Regions from separate parts of the Homo sapiens genome. Here all the other regions are linked to region 1. The links come from fine-mapping of genetic effects on gene expression. A gene starts in region 1. Each other region holds a variant in brackets. All regions are shown on one strand. Distances are between the middles of the regions. Region 1 holds the start of TOPBP1 (DNA topoisomerase II binding protein 1). Region 2 overlaps TF (transferrin). Region 3 overlaps TOPBP1 (DNA topoisomerase II binding protein 1).

The links. PIP is the estimated chance that this variant, and not a neighbour inherited with it, causes the effect.
Region 2: its variant is fine-mapped to the expression of TOPBP1 in esophagus mucosa (GTEx, PIP above 0.99).
Region 3: its variant is fine-mapped to the expression of TOPBP1 in whole blood (TOPMed, PIP above 0.99).

The regions. Positions count from the first base shown.
Region 1 is chr3:133,654,449-133,664,521 of GRCh38, forward strand. TOPBP1 (DNA topoisomerase II binding protein 1) reads right to left here and starts at 7,493. Exons shown (of 28, transcript NM_007027.4): 1 at 7,321-7,493; 2 at 6,596-6,686; 3 at 4,568-4,702; 4 at 3,350-3,493; 5 at 2,228-2,409; 6 at 842-1,038. The coding sequence starts at 6,679. LOC124909487 reads left to right here and starts at 6,778. Exons shown (of 3, transcript XM_047449438.1): 1 at 6,778-6,898; 2 at 7,065-7,585; 3 at 8,451-8,890. The coding sequence starts at 6,778. The coding sequence ends at 8,600. It also overlaps a transcript of TF not described here. RefSeq lists a silencer at 7,280-7,449 and an enhancer at 7,850-7,919.
Region 2 is chr3:133,753,237-133,763,309 of GRCh38, forward strand. TF (transferrin) reads left to right here. Exons shown (of 17, transcript NM_001063.4): 3 at 359-467; 4 at 1,259-1,435; 5 at 2,127-2,259; 6 at 3,046-3,101; 7 at 3,595-3,773; 8 at 4,533-4,710; 9 at 5,939-6,093. It also overlaps the pseudogene ACSL3P1. Among named protein-coding and RNA genes, the nearest start is that of TF, 12 kb to the left of the region's middle. The variant C/G (reference allele first, on the strand shown) is at 4,341.
Region 3 is chr3:133,600,049-133,610,121 of GRCh38, forward strand. It overlaps TOPBP1 (DNA topoisomerase II binding protein 1), which reads right to left. Exons shown (of 28, transcript NM_007027.4): 26 at 8,825-8,914; 27 at 8,487-8,648; 28 at 190-1,345. The coding sequence ends at 1,202. Among named protein-coding and RNA genes, the nearest start is that of CDV3, 31 kb to the left of the region's middle. The variant G/A (reference allele first, on the strand shown) is at 4,150.

The DNA.
Region 1 (10,073 bases):
AACTGTCTTCAGATTCAGAAAAAGAACAGCAGTATCAACTCTACTCACAGTGATCCTATCACAATCAGCCATACTCAAAGTTCTGACTTAAGGACAATTACCATTTAATCGTAATTTCTTCTCAATCTAGATAGCTTAGTAAAACACAGTATACATATAAAGGGCAATAATAAAAACATTAACAAAACTCATCTTTTATCAATTTGTGTATATTTTAAGAGTGCTGATAAAAAATTATCCAGAATAATGTTATGTAACACCAAACTTAATAGCAATTTTAAAGAATTTTTCTTGTTCGTAATGTCTTTTTCATTTTTTACTGCCTCATGTGCCGCAAGGTGTGTCTTCCAGTTAAAACTTTGCAAGATGTTAGAGAAAACATCTTTGCAAGATGTTAGAGAAAACAGTATCAAACTAGATTAATGACATGTCAGAAGTAAAAGCTGTTCTGTAAAGATTTTAAAATATTAAATATTAGTGGCTGGGCACGGTGGCTCATGCCTGTAATCCCAGGACTTTGGGAGGTTGAGGTGGGAAGATCAATTGAGGTCAGTTAGAGACCAGTCTGGCCAACATGGTGAAAGCCCGTCTCTACTAAAAATAAAAAGTTATTCAGGCGTGGTGGCAGGTGCCTGTAATCCCGCTACTCGGGAAGCTGAGTTGGGAGAATCGCTTGATCAAGGGAGGCAGAGGTTGCAGTGAGCTGAGATTGTGCCACTGCCCTCCAGCCTGGGCAATAGAGCAAGACTCTGTCTCAAAATAAATAAATAAATAAATAAAAATAAAATATTAAATACTAGAGAAAATGTTTCATTTGTCCCTTTGTGAAACACAGTTTTACCTTTTGGTTCTTGCACAATGAGGTGTGTACATTCATTCATTTTCAATTGTCCCATGTATTGACCTCCATGCTTAACTGTGAGTTGCTGAACTTCTTTCCTGTCTAAGCCACATAAGCCAGTCACACAGATTATGCAACCAAGAAAAATAGGACACTTGAAATCTTCCATGTTTATATCAGTATATCTAGTTATTTTTCTGTGGGAATCAAATGGTTAAAAAAGAACATATTAAATTTACCAGAAGAATAATGAAAAACAACACAAATATCACTATTGCTTCCCTCATTTTTTAGGATTTATAATCTTTTTTTTACAAAGGAGAACCACCAAAACAGAATTACACTAATTGTTCACCTAGTTCAATAACATGTCTCTAAAACAAAGTAATTGTTTCAGATACAGTCTCTCAAAACCATTTTAAGGGAAAAATATATATTTCCTTAACTCTAGCCCTTGCTGGTCATAGTATATTTTCCAAAATGATAAGTCTGAATCTCTACTTAAAAACCCAAAGGTAATTTGGTTGCCTATTAGATAAATGAACTTTTTAATCTTTCCATTATTCTATACAAGTAAAAGCAATGATTTTTGGCAAAATACCAACAAAAATATCATTATTCTGTTGCCATGCTAGGGAGGTGTGCTGATGAAGTAATCACATTGGGAATGAGAGTTGCTGACATGGAGACATATTTGGGATATGCTGGATGGTGTTGAAAACAAGCCCAGAAAAGTGCCGATATAATTCGTATGCCAATACAATTCTGTGGTGTTTGGTCTTGTGGTTGTTTATCTAGTTGCAGGGGAAACTGAAGTGTGCCCCTTGAAATAGGCTCTAAGCTCCATGAGGGAAGTGACTATCTTGTTTTGCTTACTACATATACCTAATGCCTACCTCAAGTCAGATACGTAAAATGGGCTCAATTAGCATTTATTAAATGATCACATCTCAGCTGATGACTTGCATATGTTTATATTCAACCTTACATATGCCATCTTTTGGAAGGAATGCAACTGCCAAAATGACTAATTTATTATCTATCTTAACATATGGGAATGGTGTTGAAGGATAATGCAACATAAAAGCTACAGAATTGCCAAACTCGTTTTCTCAATTATTTCAGAAATATTTACAGCTGAGAACTTTATCACCAAAGCATTTCCTACTCTGTAGCTAATGCTAAACCCTTGGCCCATTCTATGCCTGTCAACTTATATCTTGGTAATAAGAGCTTGTAGATTCTGCTCTTCCGTTTTCGCTGGAGAAAAGAGTAATGACACTATTTTTTTCCCTGAATAGTAAGTCCAAAGAGTATATCACATGCCAAAAATGATTGAATGCATCATTTTTTCAAATCTAGAAAATATAAAAATGTCTTTCTTACTTCTCTTGTGACTTCTCCCAAAGTGTTTTTATCCAAGAGGGAAGCAAAATAGGTTTCTTCAGGTTTGCAGCAACTAAATATTTTTTGCTACCAACTTCTCCTGCAATAAGGTGAGTTACTGATACATTAAGGTCTCTGTATACTCGTCCGCCCATCATTTGTACATATTTATGAACTTCTTCCTGCAGCCCCAAAAGAGAACACATTAATGCTGAAGCAAACAATATTGCTTCCACTTTTATACACTATCTCATAAATACATTTTGCTGTTGACAGTTTGAATACATAAGTGTTACATAACATTATAAAGTTAAATAATTAACCAAATTATTTTTTGGGAGATAAGTATGAATTATATTTTTAAAATATTATTTTCCTATATTTATCCCTTTCAACTCCATGAATGTATTAAACTATTATACAAAGGATGTATAAATCTTAATCTTTGCTTCTATATAAATATACATGTGTATTTTTAACAACATAAATTATATCTATATAATATATAAATATTTATTTTTAGCCAGGCTTGGTGGTGCATGCCTGTAATTCCAGCTACTCGGGAGGCTGAGGCATGAAGATTACTTGAGCCCAGGAAATCAAGGTTGCAGTGAGTTGTGATTGTGCCACTGCACTCCAGCGTGGGTGACAGTAAGACCCTGTCCCAAATATATATATGTATTTCTATAGCTCTCTCTTAGAATGCTTTTTTTTTTTTTTTTCCAAAACGAAATCTTGCTCTGTCACCCAGGCTGCAGTGCAGTGGCGTGATGTTGGCTCACTGCAACCTCCACCTCCCTGATTCAAACGATTTAGAATCCTTTTTTTTAAAGACTGTCCACCTATAGTGGAAAAATGTAAGTGATTAAAAAATGAGTGTCCTTTTAAATTAAAACAAAAAATTTCAATTAGCCAGTTTTCAACAAAACAAATTCTACTATATTCAATTTACTTAAAAAATGTACATGTATACATATATACACACTGTGGTTGTATACTGAACTTTGTTAAAAGTCACGAACAATAAGCGGAAAGTCTTTTAAGCTATCTTCTATGCAGTGAAAAATTAAGAATAAGAGATAGATATATAAATTGATCAATCATCATGAGATCAATATCTACCCTTTTTTCTTTTTCCAGACTTGTACAAGATATGGTTACATCAGACATAACCATATTATAAACTGGATGTTCGGCTCTTGGGACACATCGCTGGTGGTGCATACAAAATATGACTACTTGAGGACCAACAATTCTGCAGCCAAGCTACAAAAAAGAGAAAAGTTTAAATGAGTTAAGAAGGAAAAGACCACCAGTCTTACAAAATTACATTTTGTAACATTCACCAATTCTTTACCAAAGTTGATGACCACTGTAGAGAAATCAGCAAATCATTACAAGAAAAAAATAAAGATGACTATATAATTTCTCAGAGATACTATACATTAAACACTCACACACAAAAGCAAATCAAACAATGCAAGCTATCAAAAGAAATAAACTTCAGGCCAGGCACAGTGGCTCACGCCTGTAATGCCAGCACTTCAGAGGAGGCCGAGCGGGGGTGGATCACCTGAGGTCAGGAGTTCGAGACCAGCCTGGCCAACATGGTGAAACCCCGTCTCTACTAAAAATACAAAAATTAGTCGGGTGCAGTGGCGGGCACCTGCAGTCCCAGTCTCTAGGGAGGCTGAGGCAAGAGAATTGCTTGAACCCAGGAGGCGGAGGTTGCAGTGAGCTGAGATCACGTCACTGCACTCCAGCCTGGGCGACAGAGTGAGACCCTATAACAAAAGAAAAAAAAAAAGAAAAGAAAAGAAATAAACTTCAAAAGCCCCTTTCACTGAAAACTGCCTTACTGCTTACATCTATAAGCCCAATATTTTGGGAGGCTGAGGTGGGAGGATCACTTGAGTGCAGGAGTTCAAGACCAGCCCAGCCTGGCCAACATCGAGAAACCCTTTCTCTACTAAAAATAAAAAAATCAGCCGGGTGTGTATATACATCTGTAATCCCAGCTACTCAGGAGGCTAAGGCACAAGAATCACTTGAACCAAGGAAGCAGAAGTTGCAGTGGGCTGAGCTTGTGCCACTGCACTAAAGCCTGGGCAACAGAACAAGACTCTGTCTCCAAAAAACAAAAACAAAAACAAACAAACAAACAAAAAAAGCCTACTGTAACATAATTAGCCTTTCAATCCTGGTCTTGCCAAACCAAAAGAATTCCAATGTACTCATAAGTTGCATAGTACTTTATAATCCGCAAAGAATGTATGTCCATTAAAGCAAAGATAAACCAAAAAATAGACTACCAAAGGTACACACTAGAAGTCAGCAAACCTTTTTGAGGTGATCAAAGACAACGCCACTAAAAGGGTCACAGATATAAAGTGATCTATCATTCTCCTTTATCTTCAATGCCTCTTCTTCTGTAATAATCTGAAGATATTCTTCTGATTGGAATTCTTTTATGGACTGAAAGAAAAAATAAAATAAGAATGTACCTGAAATTACTCTCCTGTATTTAGGTCCTATTCAAATTCCATCTCAAATCCAGCCTTTTCCCTATTGAAAGCCACCATCACATCTCACTTAGACCTCTGCAGAAGGCTCCCAAGTGGTCTCTTTTTCCCTTCCTTGCCCTAAATCTGTTCTCTACACAGCAGCTAATAATCTTTTCAAAAACACAAGTCAGATCATGTCACTATCTGCTCAAAACCTAATGTCTTCACACCACACCCAGAATAAAATCCACATTTCTTACTACAGCCTTCAAGACAACACAGTCTGGTTTCCTGCCTATCTTTCCACCTTTACCTCCTACTTCTCATCTCTCTTGCTTATTCTATTCCAGCCACTCCCGCTTTCTTGCCAACCCTGGAACAAGCCAACCATAACCTCATTTAGAGGCTCTGCTCTTGATCTTGCAGCACAGAATACTTTTTTTCCAGGTTTTCACCTGACTTAATCCCCCACTTCAATCAGGTCTGCTTAAATGTCACCTCCCCAGAGATGCCCATCCTAATCAGGCTTTCTCAAATACCCTTCCTCTACCCTTCTAGTCTATTCTATTTAAAAATACGTATTTATATATATATATATAGTTTTTGTCTCTCTCCCCTGGAAGTTTCTATGTATCTTGTTTGCTACTATATCCTGACACCCAGTAAGCACTCAGAAATGTTCTGAACCAATTTTGAGGTCCTTATGTTAAATACAGTAATCCCTTTAAAACTGTAAGTCAGATCATGTTTACTCTTCTGATTATCAACCCTCCAATGGCTCTCCACTGAGAGAAAAATGGCCCACAAGGCCCTACATGACCTCTTTACCATTATTCTCTAACGCATTCCTTAGTACTCTTCCCCCATCCCTCACTCACTACACAACAGTACACTAAACTTGGATAGAGACTACAGGCACTTTCCCAGGGGCTGTATAAGGTTGCTCTCTCTGCCTGCAACATTCTTCTCCAGATATCTGCAAGGCTATCTCACCTCCTTCACGTTTACTCAATATCTTTTTCTTCATAAAGCCTACCCTGATCACACCCTATTTAAGATTATAACCCCCTTCTCTTCCCACCCCAAGAAACATCCTCTGGAACCCCTTAACGTGTTTTGCTTTTTTCTCTTCCTAATTTATCATGTCTGATTAGTGTCTATGTCCTCCTGCTAGAATGTAAGCTCTGAAAGAACAGAAATCTTTGCCTGTTCTCATCACTGATAAATCCCAAGTACTAGAGAAGTGCCTATCAAATCATGAACACTTCAATAAATACTTGCTGAATGAATGAAGTTTAAAAAAATCTGCTACAAATGCTTCTCAAACTTTAATGCACACTGAAGATCTTGTTAGAAATGCAGATTCTAAGTCTGGGTTGGAGGCCAAGATTCTGCATTTCGAAGAAACTTCCAGGCCATGCTGATACTGCTGGGTTCTGTGAGAAGCAAGGATCTACATCACCCCTACTATCATCCAATTATTATACTGTACATAATAAAACATAATTTTTAACAATTAACCAAAAAATTTTCAAGTATGACCAGTACACAACTGACTCAAATTTCTACAGCACGCAAAGGACCACTCTGGCTAGGAGACAAATGAAAGCAACTTAATTTCCAAGAACTGTAGGTCAGCCATATTAAACAGCAATGTGATAATAGACTTCCAGCCCCCCGAAATACATAATGATGTACTTAGATCAATTCAAAAATATGTGATAATGATATATCTGTATTAATGTAGACTATAAAATTATTATGAAAGTGAAATATCTACTTCTAAGACATAAAGCCCAACAAATCAAAAACACTTAAAAACAAGAAAATGAATTCACGGTATTAAGATGTTTTCAACTCTTACCTCGAGAGCTTTAAAAAAACATTTGGAATTGTCTGAAGACTTTAAAAACTTCACAAAAAACGGTTCTTTGTCATTTCTGGACATTTCTGAACTGTCAAAATAAAGGAACCATTAACAAGAACAAAACCACATTAGATAAAAAGTTGCATGTTTAACCTACCTATTTTTCTGTGCAGACAAGAATGCCTAAAGACAGACATTCTGGCTCTGCCCGTGAATTCGTCAACGGCATTTCTAAGAAATCCTGGAACTTGGACAAAGCCAAGGTAAAAGATGACAACACCAATCCTTGCAAATCAGACAGCAAAATTAACCCGAATTGAATACACTGAGGAAGGCCCTGCTATGAAGGCTCTAAGCCCTTTAGGCCAATGGACATTCAATTGCACTTGTTTTAAGGATACACAGAGTGTATCTGTCCCTGCGGATACCCACGGCCTGCGAGGTACGTTCATCCCTCAGTAAACAGATTTTAAATATAAACATGGAAGCCAGTTAGCATGGTCTTGGCCCTGCATAAGGCTAGATGCTCCGGTTCCCATCTCCAGGAAAAGGCCTGGCTCTGGGATCACGGAAGCCACGTCCTCTCGGCGTCAAAGGCCCACCCGCCGGCTCCAGGGCCAGTTACCAGGACAGGAAAAGAGGGTCCTGAAGGCCACAGAAGGCATCGCGAACCCCAGTTGGGGCTGGGGAGGAGCTGTGTCCCCACTCCGCGCCTCACTTACCTCGTTGGAGCCTCGGGGTCTCCGGGCGGCGAGTCGGGGGACGCGCTGGCCGCAGGGCGGTGGCTGGGGTCGGGCGCCAGCCCGGCGCACAGCCCCCTCCCCCGACTCGGCGCCGCCCCTACCCCAAAGCAAACGCTGGAGAACCCGGAAATTGCCCAGAACGGGAACCGACTTTCGCGCCAACCGCGCGGCCGCGCTTGCCTTTTCCGGTGGAAGTGACGCCATCGGCAGCTGCAGCAGAAGAGCGGAAATGTCAAACGTGGAGGTGAGCAGTCTGTGGGCGGTGGGGCTTCAGGGAAAGCTTGGGCCGGACCCTTTGGGTTTAGGGCTTTGCTGGGCGGGCCTAGTCTCCGCTGCGAGTAGGCCCAGCGCCGTCGGTTCAAGAGGTAGGACCACAGGCCAGGAATACTCCTTTACTGTTAAAAAAGCCAGGGAAAGAAAGGATTTCCTCAATAGATATTTATTTTACACCTGTCTTATACCAGGCATGCACGGGAAAAGGTATTATCCAAAACAATTCCGTGAGGCAAATAGTGGTAGTTCCATTTTGTAGATGTAAAAACGGAGGAAGTTAAATGATGGGTTCAAGGGCACACGGCTAGTAGGTGGTAGAATTAATACTGCATCCAGGTCTTCTGACTACGGACTGGGTGGTTTCCCTCCAACACAGCAGGAATAGAATCACCGCCTAACACAGCCACAAGATGGCAAGGGAAGAAAGGATGACTTATTACACAGCTAATGCAAAGGGATCTTTGTCAAGATCTTCAATGGTCTCCCCTCCTCCTCCCCTTCAGTGGACATCGCCGTTCTCTTTCTCTGCATCTGCCTCAGTACTGGGGAGATTCTGGGACTGAACCTAAGATTCAGATGGCAGAGAGCAAAGGGAGAGGGGATAAGATGGGCCTGCAAACCTTAGTGATAACCAGCGGAAAACTGATTCGTTGTTGCTTCTTTTCATTTTATTCTTTTTTAAAAAAATTTTTTCTTATTTTATAAAATCTAGCCACTATACTAATGAGGATCATTTTATTATTCACTGCTGAGATTGAGAAAATGACTTTGGATTTACTAATGTAAAAGTATAATGCCATGTCCCTTGATTGTTTTTGTTTTTCTTTTCTTTTTAGAGCCTAAAGATAGTAATGAGCAGCTTGAGTCTTAAGTTTTTGAATACACCGATGGAAGGTGACAAAGATTCTTTGCTTGGCCAAACTTTAGTCAGACTCCTCAACCTTCTCGTAGGTTTATCTGTGCATTTCCTTGGAAAATCCAGTTAGAACCCTCTACCCTCAATATCTGATCAGGTTCCTCATCCTCTACCATCCAAGGTGATGTCTGATCACCTTGACCTATTTTCAGCAAGAAACCCCTTTACTCCTGAAGTTCCTTCTTAGTAATTTTTTATCCAGTGACCCCAAGCTTTTTGTTCCTTGGCTATAAATTCCCACTTGCCCATGGTGTATTTAGAGTTGAGCCCACTCTCTCTCTCCTAATTCAGAATCCCATTGCCATGGTTGCTATACCTATCCTGATGGTCCGGAATAAAATCTGTCTTACTGTGCTTTAATAAATATCATTAATTTTTTTTTTTTTTTTTTTTTACCAGAAATGAGTCAGAATCAATTAACACTGGGGCTCAAAGGTAAAGGCCTATTGCTGGGGGAAGGGTGAAGAAAGCCTTAAAAGCAAAAAAACAAAAATCACTAGAGGTGGGAAAAAAAAGAAACCACAGTTAATTGTTAAGGTGCAAATCTGACCTGAATCTGTAATAACAATTAATATTTCTAGGGCACTTTACAGTTAACATGGGACTCCTGCTCACACTATTCCCGTTTACTCTTTTCAGCAACCCTATAATAGATGGGTATCATTGTCTCATGTTATGGAGATGGGGAAAGTGAAGTTCAGGGACTGTGTCACTTGCCCGTGCCTTTCCTGACACACCACACTGCTCCTGGGCACGTGCTGTCTGCCCATCTCTGTGTGAAGTTCCACACCGGGGAGGGAGCCCATTCCTGGCATTTCTGGGCCAAGTAGAGACCTCACAAGAGAAGGAGATTCATAGATGCTGCTAATGAAGATGAAGAAAATGCACCCTTTAGCTTTTACCCAGCCGGAACTTGATACCAGAGGAGTGACCTGTCTTTAGAGTAAGAGTTCACCACTAGGGGGCAAGTTCTCCCATCTTGTGTCTCCAGATAAGCAGAGAGGGTCTGTCTCTAGTATCTACTCCTGGAAAATGGATAAAGCAGTGGTTCTGATGTGTAGTGTCTGGACCAGCAGCATCGGCATCTCCTGGGAATTTTGGGGGAATGAAAATTCTTGGGCTCCACTTCAGACTTATTAAGTCAGGAGCACTTGGGGTAGGGCTAGCAATCTGTGCCCTTCAGGTGATTTTGGTACACATTAAAGTTTGCTTGAACAGCAGTCCTTCAGGAAAGGGTGAAATGGTTAGTATCCACGGAGGATTGATTCCAAGGCCCCCTACAGATAACAAAATCTGAAGATGCTCAAGTACCTTATATATAACCTGTGCACATACTCCCATGTACTTTTTTTTTCTTTTTTTTGAGACGGAGTCTCACTGTTGTCCAGGTTGGAGTGCAGTTGGCACAATGTCTGCTCACTGCAACCTCCACCCCCGGGGTTCAAGCGATTCTCCTGCCTCAGCCTCCCAAGTAGCTGGGGTTACAGGCGTCTGCCATCGCACCCGGCTAATTTTTGCATTTTTAGTGGAGACGGGTTTCACC
Region 2 (10,073 bases), 99 kb after region 1:
TGTGCTCTGAGTCTGGGGTGGCGAGGGCGGCTTTCTCCCACGGAGCCTGCCAGGTTAAGCCTTCGTAATTGCCTACGGTAAAGTCACGTAGGATTTTTGGCCAGGAGCTGGGCACCTCACCGGGGAAAAGAGAAACACAATCCATCACTCCCTCTATGCAGAAGGAATAGGAATGTGGTGGCTAAGTGCCCTTGCGAGGGAGACAGAGTCAACTGAAGCCAGCAGGGCTGTGCGTGGTCTAGTCAAGTTCTGGCCCTGGGTCCGTGGAGTCCTGGTAGCCACTCTCTACTTGTGTGGGTTGAGGTGGGCCTTCCTTGGAAGTCAAGGCTTCATCCAGGACTGGCCTGTTCTCTTTCAGGCAAACGAAGCGGATGCTGTGACACTGGATGCAGGTTTGGTGTATGATGCTTACCTGGCTCCCAATAACCTGAAGCCTGTGGTGGCAGAGTTCTATGGGTCAAAAGAGGGTAAGTTCTCCCTGGGACCCCAGGAAGGAGTTGTCATCCTTATTCTATATGCTGAGTGCTGTGTTTTACAGGCAGGTTTTGGATATCAGATATAATGAACATTCATCTTTGGAGAGTGAGTAGAGAATGAGGGGCCCTGTCAGCTGCCACAGCCACACATCAAGGCCTCTGGGGGCTTTGGGCTGGCTGAGGACTGGTGCTCCTAAAACTGAGCCCTGGGCCAGGGGCATATGCTTATCAGAGAAACACAGCAGGCTGTGTGCAGCTTGACCTGAAGGCTACTGCGGTCTACTGATATGTCTAGGGTCCCTGGAGGCCTCTGGAGCCATAGGTACCACTCACACAGGAGGGGTCACTCTGGAGCACACACTCAGAGGCCAGCAGCCCTGCAAGTCTTCTGAGATCAACCTGACTGTCTCTGGGCCTGTGCCAGGGGACATGAAATACTTTGATGGGCCTCTGTTACCACAGCTCCAGTTTCCTGGTGGCTGAGGTTGGTAGGTGTAGGCAGACACGCTGCAGGGCCAGGGGAGGCAAAGCATTCAGGACACATGTGCGTGTGGCCTTCTTGCCCCTGTTTGCCTGGAGGGGTAATATTATAAATATTCCTTCTATGGTCTTCTCTCTCCCCTGCAACCCTAGGAAGGTTTTCCTGATTCCCCACTCCTTATCGCCCAGTCCAGTAAAAGCATGGCCTCTCCGCTCCCCTCCCTCCTCAAGAGTCCGGTGGTGATGAGCCATGTTTCCCTGCACCAGGCTGAGGGCCTTCCATTCACACTGTGCCTTTGCAGATCCACAGACTTTCTATTATGCTGTTGCTGTGGTGAAGAAGGATAGTGGCTTCCAGATGAACCAGCTTCGAGGCAAGAAGTCCTGCCACACGGGTCTAGGCAGGTCCGCTGGGTGGAACATCCCCATAGGCTTACTTTACTGTGACTTACCTGAGCCACGTAAACCTCTTGAGAAAGGTAAGCTGGCAGGAGTCTGGGTGCCCTCGAGCAGCTGCCTCTGCTCCAGATGCCCACACAGGCTGCACTAGACAGTCACCATCAGCAGACATGTGGGATGAACTCAGGTGGGGGAAAGAGGTTAACAGACTTTAAACTGGCAGGTCTGCTGCACCAGCAGCACTTGGGAGGTGGAGCTGAGCTTTTTTCTGCTCTGAGCTTCCAAAACCCCAGCAGAGGCTGTTCTGATGAGTGAGGAAAGGGCGCAAGGCTCGGCAGAGGGTTTCAGTCTAGGCGATGGTGGTTCTCTTGTCCACTTCTCTGGATTTCTTTCCTGGAGGTTTCTCTGGAGCCCTGCACCTCTCTTAAGCAGTTCTCATGTCTGGGGCATGGATCCCAGAGGGGACCTCTCTCTGAGCTGTTCCAGCCTCTGACAAAGCAGGGAGAAGGTGCTCTGAGAAAGACCCGAGATAGGCCTTGGTTAGTGGGAAGCATAGGCCTGTTTCCTCTGATGGATGGTGGCCAGACAGAGGTCAACTTGTTCCTATTAGAAATCCTTGATCTTGATGAGTTAGCATAAGGGCAAGCTGGGGCTGCATGTGCTGGTTTGGTTTTAGTCCCCTCTGTTCCCTGATGGGCCTGGGTGGGGTGATGCCATTGGCTGTGGCCAGCCTCACTCATGCTCTGTTGTCCATTTCTCTGTGCTGAGCAGCAGTGGCCAATTTCTTCTCGGGCAGCTGTGCCCCTTGTGCGGATGGGACGGACTTCCCCCAGCTGTGTCAACTGTGTCCAGGGTGTGGCTGCTCCACCCTTAACCAATACTTCGGCTACTCGGGAGCCTTCAAGTGAGTGAGATGTCTGCTGCTCCATGGTGGCCAAAGTGCCAAATGTCCTCAGGGTGAGAGTTCTTTGCTGGTCCAAAGCCGAGCCCTGCCTGCCTACAGGGGCATCGAGGTGGCCTAATCCCCTCCCAGTGAGTCAGAAGCACAACCTGGGACTCCTAGGCCAAGCCAGCCCATGTTCCCTTTCATCTGACCCTGACAAGTAGGTCCTTTTCCTGGGGACCCTTCCTTTCTCCCCAGAGCCCTCAAGCCTGGTCAGTGTCTCCTCTCGGTGGATCGGGCAGAGCCTGAAAGGACAATCATGCCTCTAGTGTCTGGGCCCACTGTCCAGGGACTGGCCCTCTTCCCTCAATCTCAGCAGTGTTACCTGCTCAGCACACTGCCTGTCTCCTGCCCCCATCACCGTCTCTATCTGGGAAGCTGATTTCTTGCTTTCTCTTTTTACCTTGATTATATCCTAAAGTTTTACAACCAGCCAAAGGCACATTTTCACCCTCAGGAGACACTATACCATTATCTTCTATTCCAGAAGTTTAAAAGCTCTTTTCACATGAAAATATCTTCAGTTGCATTTTGCTTCTTTGGGTTATGAGGGCTTTTTATCTCGTGTGAGCTCATTCCCCCATCTCAGCACTACGCTGGAGGTCTGCACACCATGGTGTTGCTTCAGCTACGGGGCTGCACCAGGCTCTATCCTAGTGTGAGTGCTGGACAGTGTGATCAGACTCTCCAGGTGCAGGAGAAGGGCCTGCCCTGCAGGAGCCCTGCTGATGTGTTTCTTTGACCCAGGTGTCTGAAGGATGGTGCTGGGGATGTGGCCTTTGTCAAGCACTCGACTATATTTGGTAAGAATGGGACAAGAATCCACCAGGGCCACTCCAAGTAGTGGGTGTTCTTTTTCTGTGTTCCCTTTTTCATGCTCAGTAATTGGAAATGAGCATACTGTATTTCTCCTTTATCATTGCCTGGGTTTCCACCTGTGCAGAGTTAGGTACCTACGGGGTCCCCATCTGGATTCCTGGGCCTCTTTCCATCATTCAATCTCTCCACACGGTGCCTCTGCCTCTGGGGTAGTGTTGCCATAACCAAAGACTGGGGGTTGGTGCTGCTAAGATCAGGCTCATGGTGGAATGAGGAGCAATCACTGCTACATGGGCATCAGAAGCCTTTACCTGGCTGTGGGCTCTTGAGCGAGTCATTCTCCCGCATGTTCTCTGGCCTTCAGTGCTCACTCCAGACCTCTCAGCTCATACTTTCTATGATCAATTGAATTTCAAGGATGGGCACCACAGCCCATGGCTCTCCTGTGTTAAGCTCACCTGGGCTTTCCCTCCCCAGAGAACTTGGCAAACAAGGCTGACAGGGACCAGTATGAGCTGCTTTGCCTGGACAACACCCGGAAGCCGGTAGATGAATACAAGGACTGCCACTTGGCCCAGGTCCCTTCTCATACCGTCGTGGCCCGAAGTATGGGCGGCAAGGAGGACTTGATCTGGGAGCTTCTCAACCAGGCCCAGGTATCCCCACCTGCCATCCTCCCCTCCAGCTTAGTGCTCCCTGCTTGGATTTGGGGGTTTTCCTCCTGGCCATCTTGTCACTCTGGAAGTCTGTGTGTTCAGGATACAGTGGGAGCCATGCCACATGTCACTAAGTTCTCTAAAAGCTGGGACTCCCCACAGAGCAGCAGGGAGCCTGCTGTGGTGCTACCGTCTGCCGCCCTTGCCTTTCTGGCTGGTGACACCTGAAGAGGCTCTGTATTGCTCTGTTGCATTCCTTTCTACCTAAACTTCAAGGCCCAAAGCTAAACCCCTCCCCAAGGAGGCTTTCCATGACCCTCCCAGAAGGAAATGGTCTCTCTCCCCATGCCCCTCAGCCCGGCTGTGAGGGGGCTGCCTGCACAGCGGCTTTACTTCCCAAGAGCTGTGTGATTTGGGCTCAGCCAGCTTCCTCTTGCCGAGCCGTCCCATCTGTCCACTGAGAGTTTGACTGGTAACCACACAGGGCAGCCTCTGGATTAGCCACGTTTCTTGTTCTCACCGATGTCTCAACCCGTTCCGGGAGACAGGCACAGAAGCAGGTTCAGG[C/G]AAATCGCGGACCCACGAGGGCTACAGGCAGAGGAAGTGCTGGGTGAGCAGGAGCAGGTCCGACTGCCCTCTCTCCTGGCATCTTGAACTTTTTCATGTTGTTTCCTGCAGAGATTTCTTTTCTCTTCAGTCCCATTTCTCAGCCTCCTTTCTTCTGTGTTGCCATCCACTATTCTGTTTTTCTATGAACAGGAACATTTTGGCAAAGACAAATCAAAAGAATTCCAACTATTCAGCTCTCCTCATGGGAAGGACCTGCTGTTTAAGGACTCTGCCCACGGGTTTTTAAAAGTCCCCCCCAGGATGGATGCCAAGATGTACCTGGGCTATGAGTATGTCACTGCCATCCGGAATCTACGGGAAGGCACATGTGAGTACCTGGGAAGAACCAGGTGACCACAAGCACTTGGGAAACCTGGTGAGCACAGGGGCCAGAGATTGAGTCTTTTCAGGGACCTGCACGCCTCTCCTGATGCTCCTTTTTCTGACCTGTCTGTGAGCCCAGTGTTAGACTGATGCTGAATGGCGTTAGTCATTATGAGATGGCCTTGATGTCACCATGGGCTTTACAGGAAATCCACATTTAAAATGACGTGGGTTGGTTCCAGTATTTCCTTTGCATCAATCAGGACTGCCTTACCTACTCTGTGAAGGCAATTAGCTTATCACAGAGTAAGTGAAATAGAACAAAATTGCTATATATTGCACATCTCCAGCCAGTCAACATGTACCATAATGAAGAGGTGCTCTAAGAGAGGTTGATCCCAGTCCTGGATTTCACTGAGTCACTGTGGTTTTGCTTGACCATTCATTTATTCAGCAGACATTTATTGAACATCTAGCCATATGCTCTGCTAGGTGCTGGACATAGGATGGCATGACAAATATATATTTGATTCTGTTGTCCTGGAAATTTCAAACTGGGGAGAAGATAAATGTTTAATGAATAGTCATGCTATTGGATGATGAATTACAAAGTAAGAGATATGTTTAAAAGGGGAAAAATATGACAACAAAATACCATGGCCCTATGAGACTGCAAAACAAAGAAAAATAGGCCCTGGACTTGGCGTTAAGGCAAAGCTTCCTTGAGGAAGTGACTCTTGAGCTCAGTCTGAAAGATGAGCAGATGTACATTTATTCATCAGACATTTATTATGCTGACCATGTGCTAGCATTGCCCTAACCCTGAGGATGCCCTGGTGAACAAGACAGGCAGGGCCCTTTCTGTGTTGGAGCTTCTGTTCTCCTGCAGAAAACCTGACAATAAACAATGAACATATAAATAAGAACACCTCCAGTAGTTAAGTGCTATCTGAAAAACAAGAAGGAAAAAAACAGCCAGAGGTCATATAGTGCCCAGAGGCTGGAGAGGAAAGTTGGCTTCTCGGAAGACATAAAAAACTAAATTTAAATGAGAAGTCAACCAAGAGATTGTGCATTGACTTTGCTTTCTAAGGTGATTAATTCCTTGAATGGGGTCTGTTTGTTTATTGCTGGCAAATCCCAGCATTTGCATGAAGACAGTGAGTAGTGCTGACAAACACCAGGCAACAGCTAGGGCCGCTTCTGATCTTTGTTCTTTTTTTATGCCATAGGCCCAGAAGCCCCAACAGATGAATGCAAGCCTGTGAAGTGGTGTGCGCTGAGCCACCACGAGAGGCTCAAGTGTGATGAGTGGAGTGTTAACAGTGTAGGGAAAATAGAGTGTGTATCAGCAGAGACCACCGAAGACTGCATCGCCAAGATCATGGTATGTCACTCCAGCCTTCCTAGGGCAGCGTCCCTGTCATTGCTGCCTGCTGGCCCCCAAGACTGAGCTAGGGAGTGTTCCTGGGAATGATGCAAAAACCTGGCTCCCAGGAACCTTGCCCTGACTATGTGAGCACAGCCCCACCGGAGGTTCAGAATCTTTGAGCTTGTGGATCTGAAGGGTGCCCACAGGGCTCAGTTTCCTCCTTGTATGAGTGTATGGTGAAAGGGCAGGCTGAGCAGTGCCTGCTTAGGGAGGCTGGACCATGGTGTGGGTGTCCTGAGACCAGTGGTGTGCCACGATCACTGAGATAAGATCCTGAGTACATGGTAGGATCCAATCAGGTACAAATTTGCTTTGTTGATCAAAAGAGTATCCTAGCCTGGCATGGTGGCATGCACCTGTAGTCCCAGCTACTTCGAAAGCTGAGGCAGGAGGATTGCTTGAGCCCAGGAGTTCAGGGCTAGCAACTTAGCAGGACCTTGTCTCTAACAACATTTTTTTTTTAAGAAAGAATATTCCATGTTGGCTTACAGAGAATTTTTAAAATCCTGAATGATATAAAGAAGAAATAAAAAGTACTTATAATCATGTAATTCAGAGAAAATTCCCTTATTGGGATCATTTCATGTAGGTTGCTTGCTACCTTTTACTCACTCACAGTATCTAGTAAGCTTTTCCCATATCATAAATCATTCTTGTAAAACCTAATCTGGAGCTTCTGTGTTAGTGCACACATCGAGATGGGGGAGTATGGTTTGCCTAGAGAGAACATGAAGTGCCAAGCTCCACTCCCCCTCCTCCCCACATTTCTTGCCCTCTGTGTCTCTTCCATTTGGCTATTCTTGAGTTGGATCCTTTATAATAAATCAGCAAATATATTGAAACAAAGATGCATATTATAAAGGTACTTCCTGCCATTGTCAACAGATTTTTGCTGAAATATGTTAATTCTACTTTTTGAGCACTTATGAATAACCATGTATCTTCAGAACTATCTACCATGAAGCAAAAAGGGACCATCAAGCTCATTATTTTATATTTCATACAATTTATAGATATCACTTTATGCTATTTTAACATATATTCCATTTTAATTTTTGTCTGAGTCAAGACAAGAAAAACCAAACTAAGTTAAAGCAAAGCCTACAAATTCAAAACCTGAGTCTATACAAATCTGTTAGCAGTTTGAGTGGCTGGGCTTCAATATTATACTCTGGATGTGATACAATAGATAAAGTTTTTTACGTCTGTAAAAAAAAGGAAGAGCAAAAGACTCTTGGGAACATGTGAAATCTTAAATGAAGATTAAGTACAACCAAATGTAAACATATTTTAAAAGGTTCTTCTTGGACATCATAATTTGCTCTCCTATGAAGATGTCATCGTTTGAGCCTTTAATGTTGGAAATAGCTTACAGATGTTGGGGCAGAAACCAAAGACCAACATTGCCATGTTCTGTGAGACCACGTCCAAGTGGATGATTGCTGGATAGGTATGTTTCATGCATAACATTTAGTTCATAAAATTATATGCTACTTTAGGAGGTCCAGGGCCCATGGATTAATGAAACAAAAGTAACTAATCTCATTGCTAGTAAAGAATTATTGGAAACAAAGTTGAAAGACATAGTTTATTTGGTCCCACACCTGTGACACATCATCACTGTCAATGGGAAGCCACTGACCTGTCCCAATTTCCCAAGGTTGTTATCATGGACATCATGGCTGCAGTAGAAAGTGAAGGTGAGTGTGGAAAACAGATCCCAAAGTGACCAGTGCCCTCGGTTATTGCAGTAATCATGTTCATGAGTAGACACACAGGACTTCCAAAGGGAGTCATCATCTCGCATAGAAACATCATTACTGGTATTACTGGGATGGCAGAAAGGATTCCCAGACTGGAGGAGGAAGATGACTACATTGGATATTTACCTGTGGCCCATGTTCTAGAATTAAGCTTTGAGCTTCTTTGTTTTTCTCATGGATGCCTGCTTGGCTCCTCTTCACCCCAGACTTCAGTGGATCAGTCTTTAAAAGTAAAAAATGGGCTGCCCACTGTGGCATGCAGCTGTAGTACCAGCTACTCAGGAGGCTAAGGTAGGAGGATTGCTTGAGCCCAGGAGTTTGAGTCCAGCCTGGGAAACATAGTGAGACACCATCTCAAAAAAATAAAAAATAAAAAAATAAAAACCAGAAGCAAAGGGTGTACTTCTGGGTTGAGACCAACACTGATGGCAGCTGTTCTGGAAATCATGGATCAGATCTACCAAAATGTCATGAATTAAGTGTATGAAATCAGTAGTCTTCAACACAATCTGTTTATTCTGGCTTATAATTATAAAATGGAACACATTTCAAAAGAGCATAGTACTGGATTGTGTGACAGCTTTGTTTTCTGGAAACTGTGAAGCTAGCTAGGTGGAAATATTCAGCTTTTATTGTATGAAAGTGCTCCACTTTCTGCAACACGCAGCAAGTTCATGAATACAGACTCACTGAACCTACAGGGGCTGGAACAATTACAGATGTGTGGATTACAAGACTGGCAGAAGTGAGAGTCCCATTAGTTTGCTGTGAAATTAAATTAAAGAACTGGGAGGAAGGTGGATACTTTAATACTGAAAAACCACATCCCAGAGGTAGAATTCTTATCGGTGGCTAAAATGTGACAATGGGATGCTACAGAAATGAAGCAGAAACAAAAGCTGATTTATTTGAAGATGGAAATGGACAGAAGTGATTATGTCCTAGAGATGCTGAAGAGTTTGATGGTTGTTTACAGATGATCGATCATAAAAAGGACCTTGTAAAACTACAGGCAGGAGACTATGTTTCCCTTGGGAAAGTAGAGCCAACTCTGAAGAATCTCCCAGTAATAGATGACGTTTGTGCATTTGCAAACAGTTAATTGTTCTTATGTCATTGGATTTGTTGTGCCAAATCAAAAGGAACTAACAGAACTAACTTGAAAGAAAGGACTTACAGGAACTTGAGAGTAGCTCTCTAACAGTTGTGAAACAGAAGATGAGGTGCAGTAGTCCCCCTTTATGTGAGGTTTCGCTTTCTTGGGTTATACCTACAGTCAACCGTGGTCCAAAAATGTTAAGATATTTTGAGAGAGAGAGAGAGCACATTAACATAACTTTTATTATAGTATGTTATAATTGTTTTATTATTGTTGTTGTTAATCTCTTACTGTGCCTAATTTATAAACTTTATCATAGGCTTGTATGTATAGGAAATAAACATTGTATAGGGTTTCAGGTTCCAAGACTGGGGGTCTTGGAACATATCCCTTGAGGATAAGAGGGGACTACCATACGTAAAGTACTTTCTGAAGCTGCTATTTGGGCGTGTCTGAAAAAGTTTGAAAATCTATTAAAAATTGGTTTGAGCCCTGACCCATGAATCCTGAAACTGGTCTGGTGACAGGTGCCTTCAAGCTAAAACACAAAGAATTTAATACACATTACCAGGCAGACTCTGAGCGAATGTGTGGAAGAAATGATTTTTCTCTTTTGGCATCAGTTTGCTACAGTGAGCTCAAATCAAATAGGAAATTATTTGAAATGCATGTTTCAAACTGTGAGGCAAACTCCATTCTTCATATTCAACCTAGATTTTTACTTCTTAAGACATCACCATTTTCAACAGACAGGATTAGTAAAATAGTAGGAGAGCAAACTTGTGTCTGTCTTTTTCCTTTTCCCCTCCTACAACTACCTTTACCTAACCTGTGACTGTATTGTCAGTATAAGGAGTTTTCTGAATCATAGTGAGGAAGCAGATTTCTAAAACCTCAAGTTTCTAAACATGACCTATATATTCAGTTTATGTTTAAAGTTTGGATGTGTAGAGGGAGTTATGGAAAATATATAAAGTGGCTGTTGGGGGGTGCTTTTTAACTTACAGTATTAAAAAAATGCAAGGCTATTGATGTGAAATTACATACATTTCAAATGCTTATGAATCAAATCA
Region 3 (10,073 bases), 54 kb before region 1:
TCCCAAGTAGCTGGGACTACAAGCATCAAACAGCATGCCCGGCTAATTTTTTGCTATTTTTTGCAGAGATGGGGTTTCGCCATGTTGTCCAGGCTGGTCTTGAACTTCTGGGTTCAAGCAGTCCACCCACCTTGGCCTCCCAAAGTGGTGGGATTACAAGCATGAGCCACCGTGCCTGGCCTGCAATTCTTTTTTTTTTTTTTTTTGAGATGGAGTTTCGCTCTTGTTGCCCAGGCTGGAGTGCAATGGCGCGATCTCAGCTCACCGCAACCTCCGCCTCCCGGGTTCAAGCGATTCTCCTGCCTCAGCCTCCTGAGTAGCTGGGATTACAGGCATGTGCCACCACACTGGGCTAATTTTTTGTATTTTTAGTACAGATGAGGTTTCTCCATGTTGGTCAGGCTGGTCTCAAACTCCCGACCTCAGACGATCCGCCTGCCTCAGCCTCCCAAAGTGCTGGGATTACAGGCACGAGCCACCGCACCCAGGCCCCTGCAATTCATTTTTTACGTTACATAAATGTTTTGTTGCTTCAACAGAAGAACAGATGCCAGGGTGCTCTTTTAAAAAATTTATCTATGTAAACACATCTTAATACTAATTTGAGTTACTACTTTTATTCTTTATTGTCACATTTTCCAAGTTTTGCGCATTCAAACTTGGCAAACATCATGGAGATTTGTACAAACATACATATACATATATACACACATATTTATAGCCCCAGCTTCCTCATTAAACCTTGTGCTCAGGCTCCTGTTAAAAGAGGTAAAATGGTGAGAAGATAAAAATCAGGGAAAACATGAATAAATGCTGACTGACAAATCTTGTTGTTATGAATTTGTAAGGCAGACATTTTAAAGCAAAATCCATTACCTTGCTAAAATTTCCACTAAGCTACAGCTTCAGATATTTACAAGAAAAATAAATATCTTTTAACAGACTTCAATGTGGTTTAACAGCAAGCTAGCTGAGGAGTTGTATTTTGTTGTTATTTCAGGTAACTTTTTATTAAGAAACAGTTAATATTTCAGTGATTACAATTTCAGGTGTTCAAAACTCAAGAAGGGTCATCATTATACTCTGAAGCAGAATTCTTCAGGTACTCATCTTTAAATTACTACCCAAATCTATCACAGTCACATTCAGGCTTTCAATTTTTAAAAACATTTAATGTTTGGTAACTAAAGGGTAGATGCGATTAGTGTACTCTAGGTCGTTTGATTTTATTTTTTTCTGTAGGAGCTTTCCTCTTTTGTGATAATCCAGTCCCAAGTTCCTTATTATTCTGAATAAATGAAATAGCTTCTGGTAGACAGTAATTTTCTACATGAGGAGGTGATTCCTATAAAAGGAAAAATAAGTGATTTTTTAAAATGATTTCAAACATTTACGTGATCTGGTAATAGATTTTTTCTTTAAATCTCAGACCTCTCAGGGATGAATCTGACAAACTTAAAGGAAAACGCATATTCATTCCTAGGTTCCAGCAAATTAAACAAAATGGACCCTGTGGGACAAAGTCTCACCTTTTATCAAAGAAATACGTGTATGGTTCAGGTAGAGTGGGACTAGCTCAGATCTTACAAACATTTCATATCGGTGTTTTTAATCCCCATTTTTGAGATAAAATAAAAAAGGTTAAATGAAAACAACCAATGTCACATAACTAGCAGGTAGCAAAGCCAAATTTCATAACTGATCTGACTCCAAAACCCTTGCATTTTCCCCCCACAACCATTTCCCAACATAGAAATGGATCTTTTCCTCCTTATTATAAGTGTAATAAAACTTAATTTTCTAGCAATATGGCAGACTGGGCAACCTGAAAATGAATCACCACAAAATACCAAGTAAGTGCCTTTTGATTCAATTCTTCCATGGATAACAGCTACAAATTCTGACCAAAATATATTAAAAGCAACCATAGAGCCTGGAGAATAAACGAACCAAGCAAATGGGGGGCTGGGGACGCAAACACAGTGTATGAAGTAAACTGCCTGTTAAACAACACAGTACTCTTTGGAGGAGCAAAGGAACAATAGAACCTAGAGTTTCTTTTTTAGGGGGAGATAAGGGTCTTGCTGTGTTGCCCAGGCTGGTGGCTGGTCTCAAAAATGACACATTGAATACAAGGGAACAATTCAAATGACCATCACTGATTTCTCAACAGAAACAATGGAGGCCAGCAGACAGTGAAGTCTTTAATAGAAGAAAAAAACCTGTCAATCTATAATTCTGTATCCTGCAAAACTGTCCTTCAACAATGAAGGTAGAATAGACATTTCATACAACAGAAAGCTAGAATTGATCCCCAATCAACCTGCACTCCAAACTAAAGTTAGTTCTTCAGGCTGAAGGAAAATGTTATCAGATGGAAACTCAGATCTTCAGGGAAAACTGACACTCAAACTGGTATACATGAGGGTAATTATAAAATACCATTTTTTATTTTAGTTTCCTCAAAATGCACAGAATTGTTAAAAGCAAAACCTATTTAAAGTAAAATCTTATTTGGGGCTATAAGATGTAGATGTAAAATATATGACAACTACTGCATAAAGCAGAGGTCAGCACACTTTCTGTAAAGGCTCAGACAGAAACATTTTAGATTTTGTGGGATAGATGATTTGTGCTGAAACTACTTAACTCTGCCATTATAGTGCAAAAGCAGCCATAGAAAATACATAAATGAATGAGTATGGCTGTTTTCCAACAAACCTTTATTTATAAAATAGGCAGTGGGCCAGGTTTGGCCAGGTGGCTATAGTTTACTGACCCCTGGTATAAAGGACAGGGGAAGCAAATGAACCAACTTGGATGCAAGAGATCTACCTTTTTTCATTTTTTTTTTTTTTTTTTTTGAGACAGAGTTTCGCTCTTGTCACCTAGGCTGGAGTGCAGAGGCACGATCTTGGCTCACTGCAGCCTCCGCCTCACAGGTTCAAGTGATTCTCCTGCCTCAGCCTCCCAAGCAGCTGGGATTACAGGTGTGCGCCACGACACCCAGCTAATTTTTGTATTTTTAGTAGAGACACGGTTTCACCATATTGGCCAGGCTGGTCTCGAAATCCTGACCTCAGGTGATCTGCCCACCTTGGCCTCCCAAAGTGCTGGGATTACAGGCGTGAGCCACCATGCCCGGCCTCAGGAAGTAATTTGTAATCTACATATAAACACTTCTCCCTCCAAAAGGTAAATATATTTTTGCTTTAGAAGGCCAATGGATAAAATAAAATTCTAAAAATATTAAACTAATACAAAAAAAGCCAAGAAAGACAAAGAAGAACAAGGACAAAGAACAAATAGAAAACAAACAGCAAAAAACCCCATCCCTAAATCCAATCATATCAATAATTACATGATGGACTAAACACTCCAAAGAAAAAAAAAGCAAGGCCCAACTATATCCTATCTACAAGAAAGCCATTTTAAATATATGACACAGACAAGTTTAAAATTAAAAACCATGCAAAGAGATATCATGACACAGAGTAAACAGGAAAAGGCTATATTAACCTCAGATAATGTACATTCAAGGCGGAGTAAGCCCAGAGATACGTGTTATAACAAAGGATCAATATGTGAAAATCAAAGAAATTATATATGGGTAAACAACTAGCAACAAAGTTTGAAATAAATGGGGTAAAAGCTGACAAAATTAAAGAGAAAAAACAGACAATTCCACAAACAGCTGGAGATTTTAGTATCAGTAATTGATATAACTAAACAAACAAAAAAACCCACATACACAGAAAATCTGATCAACATTATCAACCATATTAACCTATTTGATATTTTTAGAACACAACACCCAACAGCTGCAGAATATAAAATCTTTCACATATATGATATGTTCATTAAGATAGATGAAGCTGGGTGATAAAACAAGTCTCAATAACTTTAAAAGAATTAAAATTATAGAGTATTTTCTGTGATTACAATGGAATTCAATGGGCAATCACAAATTAAAAAGATAGAAAAAAAAATCCTCTTATATTTAGGAACTAAACAACAGACTCCTAAATAAGCCAGTTATAAATGAACACAAGTTGACAATATCAGGAATAAACTTATTTATTTATTTATTTATTTATTTATTTTGAAACGGAGTCTTGCTCTGTTGCCCAAGCTGGAGTGCAGTGGCGT[G/A]ATCTCGTCTCACTGCAACCTCTGCCTCCCAGGTTCAAGCGATTCTCCTGCCTCAGCCTCCCGAGTGGCTGGGACTACAGGCACACGCCACCACACCCCGCTAATTTTTTTGTATTTTTAGTAGAGACAGGGTTTCGCTATGTTGGCCAGGCTGGTCTCGAACCCCTGACCTCAAGTGATCTGCCCACCTCAGCCTCCTAAACTGTTGAGATTACAGGCGTGTGCTACCGTGCCCAGCCAGGAATAAACTTATTACACTAAAAGGATAATAAGAATATTATGAAGAACTTTATGCCAACAAATTTGATAAGATGAAATGGATATATTATTTGAAAAACACCAGTTATTAAAAACTGACATAAAATGAAACAGAAAATAGGAAAAGCGCTGTATCTAGTAAAGAAAATTCGTTACAAAAAACCACATATAAAGAAAACTCCAGGCCGGGTGCAGTGGCTCACGCCTGTAATCTCAGCACTTTGGGAGGCCAAGGTGGGCGGATCACCTGAGGTCAGCCTCAGGTCAGCCTGGACAACATGGTTAAAACCCCGTTTCTACTAAAAATACAAAAATTAGCCAGGTGTGTTGGCTCATGCCTGTAATCCCAGCTACTTGGGAGACTGAGGCAGGAGAATCACTTGAACCTAGGAGGTGGAGGTTGCAGTGAGCTGATATTGCCCCACTGCACTCCAGGCTGGGCGACAGAGCAAGACTCCATCTAAAAAATAAAAATACAAAAAAAGAAAACTCCAGTCCAGGTGGCTCATGCCTATAATCCTAGGACTTTGGGAAGCCGTGGGGATCACTTAAGCCCAGCATGGTGAAACCCCGTCTCTACCAAAAATACAAAAATTAGCTAAGACTGGTGGCGTGCGCTTGTAGTCCCAGCTACCCAGGAGGCTGAGGTGGAAGGATCATTTGAGCACAGGAAGTGGAGATTGCAGTGAGCTGAGATCAAGCCATTGCACTCCAGTGTGGGCAACAGAGCCAGACCGTGTCTCAAAAAAAAAAAAAAGAAAACTCCAGACCTTCAAACATTCAAGGAAGAAAGAGGCATCTTACACAAACTCTTCGAGAAAATCAAGGGAGAACTTCCCAACTTGTTTGTGATGCCAGCAAAACGCTAATACCAAAAGATGACAAAAACATTACAAAACAATGAGAATTACATACCAATATCCCACCCTGAAAACAATTTTAAAAATTTTTACTCAACTAAATCTAGCAATATATACAAAGATTAATATGGCGTGATCAAGTGGGACTGATACATGAAACTTAACATTTGAAAATGTAATTCCCCATAGTAATAGAAGGAAAGAGAAAAACCTTATAACAACTCCAACAGAAGTAGAAAAAGACATTTTATAAAAGTTAACCCCAATTAATGATGAAAAAGAAATCTTAGTAAACTAGGAATAAAAGGACTCTTCCTCAATCTGGAAAAAAAAATCTATGAAGACCCTATAGCTGGTGAAATATTGAACACTTTCCACCTAGGCTAGGGAATAAAGACAAGGAGGCCCAATCTCACCACTTCTATTCAGCAGCATACTTGAGGTCCTAGCCACATAAGACAACAAGAAATAAAAGGCATAAAGAAGGGAAAATCTACAAATCTCTTTGCAGATAAAATGATTGCTTATGTAGGAAAGCCTAAGGTACTAATTGTACTAAGTGAATTTTATTAAGATCATAGGGTATAAAAGACTGACAGGCAAGGCACAGTGGCTCACACCTGTAATCCCAGTACTTTGGGAGGCCGAGGCAGGTGGATTGCTTGAGACCAGCCTGGGCAACCTGGTGAAACCCTATCTCTACCCCTTCCCCTTGCCAAAAAAAAAATTAGCTGGGCATGGTGGCACATGGCTGTAGTCCTAGCTACTTGGGAGGCTGAGGTGGATCTCCTGGGCCTGGGAGGCAGAGGTTGCAGTAAGCCAAGATCACGCCACTGCACTCCAGCCTGGGCAACAGAGTGAGACCTTGCCTCAAAATAAATAAATAATAATATACAAAATTTATATTCTTTTGGATTGGCAGCAAATTGTAGAAAAAAATCTAAATGTAAATCTAGAAATTTTTATTTACAATAGCATCACAAAATAGGAATAAATTTAACAAAAGATAGGTAAGTTCCCTTACTGAAAAACCACAAAATGTTGCTGAGAGAAATTAAAGAAGACCTAAATAGAGACATTCTAGGTTTATGGAATAGAATGCTCAACACTGTAAAGATGTTTACTGTCCTCAAGTTGGTCTATAGAGTCAGTGCAATCCTAATCTTAACCACTCTAGGCCTTTTTTTTTTTTTTTTTTTTGTAGAAACTAACAAGCTGAGTCTAAAGTCCATATGGAAATGCAAAGGACATGGAACAGCTAAATAACCTTGAAAAAGACAACTAAAATTGTAGTCTTAATACTAGCTTCAAAAGTTGCTGTACAGCTACAGTAATCAAGACACAGTAGGAAAGGTATCAACAAGTAGATAATGAAACAGAATAGAGACTCACAAAAATACGATCATTTGATTTTTTATCAAGATGCCAAAGCTTTTGTGGGAAAGGAAAATCTGTTCAACAAATGGTGCTAGAACACCTAGATATCTATATGGAAAAAAACCAGCCCTAGTCCATACCTCAGAGCATTAAGAAAAATTAATTTGTAATAGGTCATAGAGCTAAACATAAAAGCTAAAACAATAACTTTTTAGAAAAAAATATTAAATACACACACACACACCAACAAACAAACAAACAAACAAAGAGACCATGAAAGAAAAAGTGCTCGATGTCATTAGTCATCAGGGAAATACAAATTACAAACACTCTGTACAAATTACAATGTGCTCCCACTATAAACCTACCGCATGGCTAAAAATCAAATGACTGCCAACACTAAATGTTGGCAAAATATGGAATAACCAGAAGGCTTACACAGATTGAGTATCCCTTATCTGAAGTGCTTAGAATCAGAAGTATTTCAGATTTTGGAATATTTATATTTACTGGTTGAGCAACCGAAACCCAGAAATCAGAAATGTTTACGATTTTGTACCATTTCTAACTTTTGGATTTGGGATGCTCAATCTGTATATTATTGGTGGAAAGTGTAAAATGGTAAAAATCCCTGTATATTTTTAGTAGCTTTACTAATGATAACCAAGATGACAAACAGCTACTAAAAATATACAGGCTTTTTTATGGACATATTTTTTCATTTTTCCTGGGTAAATAGGACAGAATTGCTGTGTAATAGAATAAGTAAATATTTCGTTTTTTAAGAAGCTGCCAGGCCTTTTGTCAAAGGGATTTTTACCATTTTACACTTCCCACCAATAATGTACAGATTGAGCATCTCAAATCCAAAAGTTAGAAATGGTACAAAATCCTAAACTTTCGAGCACTTATGTGATGCTCAAGGGAAGTGCTTATTGGAACATTTCTGATTCCAGGAGTCCAAGGGTCCATCAATAGGAAAATGAATCAACTATGGTATATTCAGACAAAGAAATACTACTCAGCAATAAAAAGGAATGAACTACTGGTATACACTACAACTTGAATGAATGTCAAAAACATCACGTTGAGTGAAAACCTTAGATAAAATCGTGGATACTAATCAGTATGCCCTCTGCTCTATAACGGCTTCACATTTGTGTTTTAGGCATTCTATTAAATCCTGAGCAATCTCCAAGCACAGCAGCAAAATCACAAAGCTGACTTTGAGTGTTGGCCTCCCCTTATTTCTGTATCATCCCAGTTGAAATCCTTCATAGATTATGATTATGAAATCTAATCCTTATGATTATGTGTCATGCCTGCTGACTCCTGATGGCCTTTTGGGCACTCTGGTGTCAGAAGATTTTTCTTACCCCATTCAAATTACACAACACAGGCCAATTCTGAATATGAGAGTAGTAAGCCCACCATATAGCAAATGCTTAAATTTACCACAGTGTCTAACATAGGTATTTAATGTACATGAAAGCAAACAGTCAAGAAAACTAAAGGACCTTTGGATAAATGTTTCTCCTTGGACTCCTGGAATCGATTTCTGCTTTATATTCCAACATTTTAAAGGGTATTTTTAAAGCCTTTAGAGGTACCTAGATTTTTATACTCTTCTCATATTTAACTTCCAAGCTAAATGTTTACATAATATGTTCATTATAATAAAAAACACAAATAGAATAAAACTGAAAGGGCTGGAATAGAAGAGAATAACAGGAGACTAATCTTCTACTAATCATGAGCTGAAGGTTTTGTTGTGCAGTTACTTATCTATGCACATAAACGTATCTCTGGTAATGAGGAGGTCAAGGATAGAATCTCACAAACCTGCATGAGATAATCAGCAATGTATTCTGTTCTCAAGCAGTACACGTTCTGGGCAGCAGCTTCTGCTATATTAACTCCTGAGTCATCTGGTTTCAGTTTATTCAAGTCAGAAAAAAGATGTGTGGCCTCTTTAAATAAAGGTACAGAATGACCAGGTAGCACCTAATGAAAAAACAAGGTAGTATCACAATCTACCAGTATTCCAAAGTAGTTCAGCTGTATAATGTGTACTTAAGGATTACCATTTCAAAAAGTAGAGAAAATGAAGAACTCATCATAGCAATCTTGGTTAGATGATTATTCATGTAAAAAGGTCAGTAAATTAATTTGATACAAACCTTTGCTCCTCCTGACTGAAGAAGGCGTTTGAAGCCTGCTTCTCGAGACTGATCCACATGTAAAATAACCTTCCACCCACTAAATGCTCCCTACAAATAAAAAACAATCAGTGGTGAAATCATTTGGAAAATAACAAAATAATACAGATAATGCATGATTTTATCTGTAGACTTAGTTTTGTCAATAAATCTTATAAACTTTACTTTTGCCACAGTATAATTATCTCTGGCCAGAACACTGAAACGTGAATCCATGGTATCTGGCACATAGTAGGCCATCAAGAAATACGTGAGGAATGAAAAACCATTAATGATTAGGTAACATTAAAACAAAGCAGTGTGATTGATGTTTAGTCTTTTCTAGTATTTTTTTCTTTTGATTAATCAAGGGAAGAGCTTCAAGCAGAGCTCCTTAGGTTAGATGAAGCCTGCGTTTCACTTCTCTTAAAAATGTTTACAAACTGGAAACAAAATATTTAGGAAGGGAATAACAACTAACAAAAGCCAGTGGAATTACTCTAAAAGAGAGGGTATCATGGCTAATAAGGATTTGGAGATATCAGAGAACTTAGAATACAACATGAAAGACTATTTAACTCAGGGGTTCTGATAATGGTTTGGCTGTGTCCCCACCCAAAATCTCATCTTGAATTGTAATCCGAATGATAATCTCCAAGTGTTGGGGGAGGGACCTCGTGGGAGGTGATCAGATGGTGGGGGCAGTTCCCTCATGCTGTTCTCCTGATAGTGAGTTCTCAGGAGATCTGATGGTTTTATAAGGGGTTTTTCCCCACTTTGCTCTGCACTTCTCTCTCCTGCCACCATGTGAAGAAGGACGTGTTTGCTTCTTACATGACTGTAAGCTTCCTGAGGCCTCTGTAGCCATGTGGAACTGTGAGTCAATTAAACCTCTTTCCTTTATAAATGACCCAGTCTCAGGTGTTGCTTCATAGCAGCGTGAGAACGAACTAATACAATTAACCTTTTTGTAAGCCATGGATCCCTTTGGCAGTCTGGTCATTAGACTACTCTAAATAATAGCTGTATTGAGATATAATTCCCAAACCTTATGGGTGATTTTTAGAAAATGTTAAAATTAAAATATAAAGGATTACAAAAGGAAGCCATTTTATTGAAAGTTATCAAAATATTAAAAACAAATTTGTTGTGTAATTATAGATGTGCTTTATATTAAAGTAGCAGACAATAACTAATATGGCTTTCAGTGCTTTGACAAAACCTCAGATAT